2 linked regions of the Homo sapiens genome follow. The protein of the gene in region 1 interacts with the protein of each later gene in a pairwise test. Each region holds a gene or a part of one and is shown in the gene's direction. Other genes may lie near its edges.

What was found. Proteins that work in one complex are often made in the same cells at the same time.
Region 2: the proteins of CELF1 (region 1) and SLC25A14 interact in a two-hybrid assay, tested with the Homo sapiens proteins (one large-scale study listed by IntAct).

The regions. Positions count from the first base shown.
Region 1 is NC_000011.10:47,476,633-47,480,132, reverse strand, and holds part of CELF1 (CUGBP Elav-like family member 1), read left to right. Parts: intron 1-1,180; coding exon 1,181-1,256; intron 1,257-2,707; coding exon 2,708-2,836; intron 2,837-3,173; coding exon 3,174-3,287; intron 3,288-3,500. UniProt on the Homo sapiens protein: RNA-binding protein implicated in the regulation of several post-transcriptional events. Involved in pre-mRNA alternative splicing, mRNA translation and stability.
Region 2 is NC_000023.11:130,367,419-130,370,918, forward strand, and holds part of SLC25A14 (brain mitochondrial carrier protein 1 isoform 1 precursor), read left to right. Parts: intron 1-3,500. UniProt on the Homo sapiens protein: Transports inorganic anions (sulfate, sulfite, thiosulfate and phosphate) and, to a lesser extent, a variety of dicarboxylates (e.g. malonate, malate and citramalate) and, even more so, aspartate and glutamate and tricarboxylates.

The DNA.
Region 1 (3,500 bases):
TGGCGACAGAGCGAGACTCCGTCTCAAAAAAAAAAAAAAAAAAGTGTAGACGTGGGTGCTAGTGGACTGTGTGATAGTACATCATCATTAATTATGAGGTTCTTTCTGGACTATGTGGACTTGAGTTAGCCAGGCTCTACTGTCCTGGAGGAGTTGGTTTTTATCTTTTTATCCTTTGAGAAGCGGGGGGAAAGGGTGTATAGGTGCATTTTTTCCCCCATTCTGTTCCTGGAGGTTTGTAGACCTCCTGAAACTTATCCATGGTCTCTAGCCTGGAAGGATTTGCGGCGACAGAGAAACCAGGTCAGATGTTTATAGGAATGGGAAACAGGTTGAATAAAAGGATCCTGTACAAGAATACCAATTTTCCATAAACAATACTAATTGGGTTTAGTTGGAGCAAAAGTTTTCAGCAAGCTGGTTAGATGAAGGTTGTGGTTTGCCAATATACAAAGTAAACTAATGCCACAAACTCAGGGACAGGCCCTCTTACTTTATTTGTCATGGGACCATCATTGAAGGAGAACGTACTCTGAACCTGGTATAGACTAATCCATCAGTCATTTGGTCATCTGCAACAGGGAAGACCAGTTTGGAGGGGAGGAAGTAAATAAGGTTGGATAGATGTGTAGCTGGAGTGATTATTAGTCATGTGGTCCATTGTGACCAATAAAGGGTAACTCCAAGAAATACTATGAAATGTTTAGATTTGATATTTAAAATAGTTGTGTGAAGTAGAAATTGAGTATCCAGATGGAAACAATCTGCAGAGTGAGATGTGTGGACCTAACTAAGGAGAACTTGGGAGAGGGTAGCTGGAAATGGCATTCATTCATTCGCAGACAATAATCACAGTTGACTGCGTAGCTCCTCAAGTTTAGCTTATTATCCTGCTGTAGTTCTGTCCTTTGCTGTGCTGAATTCTGCTGCCCAGGGACTTGAGCTTGGCTCAGTATTCAGTGAACATACTATCTTCTGGGCCAGTGCTTTAGCTGTGTTTTTTTTTTGTCCTGTGCTGTCATAAGCCTCATGTTTCTGTTGTGTTGGCTTGGGTTCTTGTCTTTGACTTTCTTCTCTCTGGGGGCCTCTGCACTCTCGCTTTGCTGTGCTGTAGAGTTATCCCAGATGCAGAACCAGCCCTCACTCTCACTCTTGTTCTGTTTTTTGGTGTAATGTCTAGCTTTATTTGCAGCTCCTTCAGCAGACTGCCTCCTCTGGGAACCTCAACACCCTGAGCAGCCTCCACCCAATGGGAGGTAAGTGTTTCACTGCTGCAGAGGAGCAGCAGCACCCAGGCCAGCAGACCCAGCTAACAACAGTCTTGGGAGTTTGGCATCGTTTCTGTGAAAACATTTTTTTGCTTATTATGTAAACCTGACCTAGGATAAACATCCCAGGACTCAATTTTCTTGTCTCTATACAGTGGCTCTATGGCTAGTTGATGCCACATTGCTCTGACGTTATCTGGTGCCTCCTAACCTTTTAGGTCACTGTTGAAGAAGAATATGGAAAAGGGCTGTTTAGCTCCTATAGACTGAGGCTGTTCTCTGATAAGGGGAAAAAATTGCAAGAACTCTTTATTTCCATTATAAAGTGACTTTTCCAGTGACTGCAGAAAAGCCAAAGATGGCTTCCATGCAAATGCCCTACCTTGAAGCTTCTAGAACCCAGGCATTTGGTTTACCTGTGTATCTTCTTGTTTCTTAGGTGAATTCCTATTTTGTTGTTGCTATTATCGTACACAGAAAACTTAAATGGAGTGCCACAACAAACCTGAGCTAGGGCCCATCAGGAGTCGGTTGGGGGTAGGGCATGGGACAGCTTCAAAGCTGCCTGTGCCTACACCCTCTGCATTGGATTTAGGCTAGGCCAAATGTGCATTTGAGAAAGGCATAGTTTTCAGTGAACTGCATTTTGCTCTTTGAAAATTTTTGATAGTCATTCACTTTGTCTCAGGAAATTATAGTTGGCTATATTTTTGGAAAGTTGCTAGATTGTAATCTGTATTGTATTTTAATTCTCGTTTACTCTTTCCACTCCCCCCACCCCTCACCCCATCCATCTTTCCATTGTCTAGTAAATGGTTTGCAGCAGCGACAGCACAGTTTAGATTCCTTCTTCCCCTTTCAACTGTGTTGTCTGGGCTCTACTTGGAAGTCTTTCACTCAGTGATTTTTCCTCTCTCCTCTTTCTGGTGATGAATCTGCTATTCAAGTGACAGTGTCTTTATTCTTTGTGTCATTGCTGCTCTGCTGTGTTCTCCCTTGTTTGCTCCTGGGCCTTCTGCATCTGCCATGTTTTCTGCGTGTTCCCCTCTATTACAGAGAGCGAATCCCCTGTAAAGTGTGAGTGAGGGGCCTGGATGCAGTCCCATTCTGTGCTGTAGGTTTTGGCATTGTTCTCCTGTGCTCCTGGCCCTATGGTAGGCAGTTTTTCTTGGTTTCCTAATTGCCCACACCTTTATTAATGTACACTTGGCATGGTATGCTATTGGATTAGCCATCTCTTCTCTGAGGAAATGATTTCAAGTTTCTTAATGAGTGATACATGAATCATTTTTGGAGCCCTGTAATGTTGTTTGTAAGGCTTATCTAGAACAGTTCCTCTTTGTCAGGGACCAGCCCTCTGCCAGTGTGTGCTTGTCATTGCTGGAATGGATATGAAGCACCCTTATCTGCTGGCTAATCTCTTGCTTTGGATGTTGTAGGGTTGAATGCAATGCAGTTACAGAATTTGGCTGCACTAGCTGCTGCAGCTAGTGCAGCTCAGAACACACCAAGTGGTACCAATGCTCTCACTACATCCAGCAGTCCCCTCAGCGTGCTCACTAGTTCAGGTAAGCATGAGGATGACCCAGTGTGCCATTATGTGCCTTGGACAGATGCTTTGTGTTTAAAGGCAGAGTCCAGAGAGGGAAAATAGTTAACACCTGTTTCCAGAGAGGTCAGATTATGAGCAACAAATTTTCAAATGTCATCTTTTGTACTTAAGAGAAATCTTCCTGATTTTCAATGTGCTGTGGCCATTATTTGTCTCTGTCCTGCAAGGACAGTTGTTAGAATTAGTAACTGAAAACCTCTTTACAAATAGCATACTTGGATAGTGACACTTTTTCTTGTATTTGGCGAGAATGCCAGTGATGGGTTGAATTTTAACTCCTTGCTTTCTAATAGCAGGGTCCTCACCTAGCTCTAGCAGCAGTAATTCTGTCAACCCCATAGCCTCACTTGGAGCCCTGCAGACATTAGCTGGAGCAACGGCTGGCCTCAATGTTGGCTCTTTGGCAGGTAAGGGGCAGCACCTGGCTGTCATCAGACTATTCTTTGTGCAGGTAGCACATCTTAACCCTGGTAGGGGCACCACTGGAATGATTGCAGTGGCCCAGTGAAGTTAAAAATAATCATGAGGGCCAGGTGTGGTGGCTCACACCTCTAATCCCAGCACTTTGGGAGGTCAAGGTGGGCGAATCACGAGGTCAGGAGATCGAGACCATTCTGGCT
Region 2 (3,500 bases), on another chromosome or scaffold:
GGGGGAGACATCCTAGTTTTGGATACTCAGTTTGATGTGCATGAGGAAAATCCAGTGGATACATATGGATATTCTAGCCCTGACTCAAGAGAGGGTTCATGGATATAGATAAAAGCCCATGGAGTCATTAGCACACAGGTGGTATATAACTGTGGAGAGAGTTGACCAAGGAGAGTAGGTAGAGGAGTTCACAACCTTTTTGCCTTCCCAGCATACTGGAGTACTATAAAATTCTTTCCCGTAATAATGATTGCCTGGGGCAGCAATTCTCAGACCCTGGAAAGTATAGTTTGGCAAAAGCCCCCATTGGTATTTCTGCATTTGACAATTACTGGTGTAGAGGGAAGAGCACTGGGCCAAGGAAAAAACACTGCAGAATACCAATTTTTATTTATTTATTTATGCCCAGGCTGGAGTGCAATGGCGTGATCTCTGCTCACTGCAATCTCTGCCTCCCGTGTTCAAGCAATTCTCCTGCCTCAGCCTCCTGAGTAGCTGGGATTACAGGTGCCCGCCACTACGCCTGGCTTATTTTTGTTTTTAGTAGAGACAGGGTTGCACCATGTTGGTCAGGCTGGTCTCGAACTCCTAACCTCGTGATCCACCCGCCTTGGCCTCCCAAAGTATTGGGATTACAGGCGTGAGCCACCGTGCCCTGACCGGAATACCAATTTTTAAGGTCTTGGCAGATGAGGAACCTAGGAAAGACACCAAAGACGAGGAAACTTAGAGAGTAGTGTCATGGGAGCCAAAGAAGTTAATGAGTTTCAAGAAGGAATGAGTGGTTACTTAATGTCACATGCAATAGCGATCTAATATGATAAGGACTGCAAAGAGTCTGTTGGATTTAATATTTTTTAGAAGGTTTGGTGAATTGGTGTTTGCAAAAGCCAATTGCTGTGCATTGAGGAATATGTTTGATTATTCATTCAAGTAATAAAAAAGAAAAAATCAAGCTGACTCTTGAAGAGGCCCCCCCACACACACACAAAAGAAAGAAATGTTTGTCTTATGTGCTAAGCACTGTTCTAGGTTGTTGAGGATGTACTGGTAAACCAAAATGTCCCTGTGTTTATGACACTTAGATTCTAATAGAAGGAGATAAACACAGGAAGTAATGATAAATAGACAAATGTAAAGCACTGTTTCAAGAAGATTGGCTAAAAGATTTACTGTAAGATTTACTATACAATAATATAGTAATAGCTAATGTTTATTGAATGCTTATTCTATCGCAGGCACTGTACATAGAGTATATCCTTTAACTCTCACAGCGACCTTGTGGAGTAGATATTATCTTTCCCATTTTATAAAGGAGGAAACTTAGGTTCAGAGTAGCTAAGTAATAACTTACACAAGATTACACAGCTAATAAGAGGCAGGTCTGAGACTTAATCCACAATCTGTCTGATTCCAAAGTTTGTACTTACAGCCACTATGCTGTTCTGAATCTGCAGAAACATGTTTTTATGTTGGTAGTAACCTTTAAGTACTTACATTTGCTCACTCATTTACTCACTTGCTACTAAAAAATTTTAATAGCAGTCATTCTTTAAAATGACTTTGTTCTATTTTGCCATTTATGTAATAGCATCAGACTTTATTATTTTGTCTATGCTTATCTATAGAAGTTCTTTGTTTTCACACAACTGCCTTATGCCAAAAGATGCCTCCCAGTTCTCACGTTGTGAAGAAATTGGTCACTGTTTTTGGAAATTTATAAAGATTCAAGCCGGGTGCTGTGGCTTGCATCCTGTAGTCTTAGCTACTCGGGAGGATCGCTTGAGCCAGAGTTTGAGGCTGCAGTGAGCTATGTAGTCTTGCCACTGCACTCCAGTCTAGGCGACAGAGCAAGACCATGTTTCTTAATTAAAAAAAAAAAGATCCAGATGGCTCACAAGAGTGTTAGAGACCCTTACTGTTTTTGTGTTCACCTCTTCAACAAATACTTACGGGAAAATTTCTTGCACCAGACACTGTGTTAGGTGGTGGTGACACAATGGTGAACAAACAAAGCTAGTTTCTAATCTCTTGGAGATTTCATTCTAGTTGAGGGAGACAATAAACACACAATGCACAGTATAATTTTAGATAGAAATAGATGCTATGCAGAAAATAACAGCATATTGCAATAGTGACTCAGTAGTGGGGAACTACTTCAGCAAGGATGGTCAAGAAAAGCCTCTGAGGAGGTGACATTTGAGCTGAGATCTGAATGATGATGAGCTGGCCATGAGAGCTGGGAGAAAACCATTTCATAAAGAGGGAATAGGTTACTGAAGGCCTGAGTTGGAAATAAGCTGGACATGTTCAAGGGTTAGAAAGAAAGCTAGTGTGGCTGAGTGTGTGGTGAATGAAGGGAGAAACTAGTAGGAAATGAAACTGGAGAGAAAGGCAGCAGCTAAATCATGTGGGATCCTATAGGTCTTTGCAGAGACTTTGTAATTAGAATGAAATCCACCAGGAAGCCATTTGAGAGCTTTAAGCAGGAAATGTTATGCTCTCATTTATAATTTTAAAAGATTGTTCTAGCTTCTAGGTAGAGATTTTAGACCAATTAAAAGTCCATTGTGGTAGTCCAGGTAAGAGATTATGAGATTGGATGGTCTTTCAGAGGTCTCTTGTCATTTAACAGTCTAGGTTCTAGGTTATTCACATCTGGGCTTTATTTGGGGTGATTTTCACAATTTTCCAACATCAGTTTTGGTCTCAGACCTTTACTATTTGCTGAAGATCCATTGGGGGAAACATATTACCACTATATCTTCATAAATATTGTGCTTATTATTTTACTGTTTGTTCCCAAAAGTAGTTAGTAAGGATAATTATCTCTAGTATACTTAATGTACAGGATGGGAAAAAGAATATTTACAACTCTGGCTTCTCATATTATTGTCTTATCCAAATATATCCTTTTTTTAGAATTGTGGTGGGTTTCACTTCACTATTGGAAAGGCAAAATAACATTTTTCAATGTCTAACACAATGCCTAACACACTGTAGTTATGTAATAGATATTTGTCCATTATATACGAACCATTTCTGCTGGCTAAATTCAGCACGTGCCACCAGTTTACAACGTTTATGCATAATTTATCATTTAATTCTCATAACCATGTATATAAGACCCCTGTTGTATAAAGTAGGAAACCAAAACTCAAAACACTTCACATTTTTCTTCATGTAATCCTCAAAGCATTCACATGAGGTAGGCTATGGCATTATATAGAATTTATAATGATGAAACAGACTCAGAGAAGAATAATGACTTGCCCAACTTTCTATTTTCTTACCCTGCTTTAGTTCTCTTTGTGGCACTTATTTTTGGATATAATATATATCAATTTGTGTATTTGTCAGCCCCACTAGAATATGCACTCCATGAGGGTAGAAACTGCTGTATAGGTTACCTATTGCTGTGTAACAAATTACTCCAAAACTCATTGCCTTAAACCATTTGTTATTTTGCAGTTTCTGTGGGCCAGGGATTGCAAAGCAGC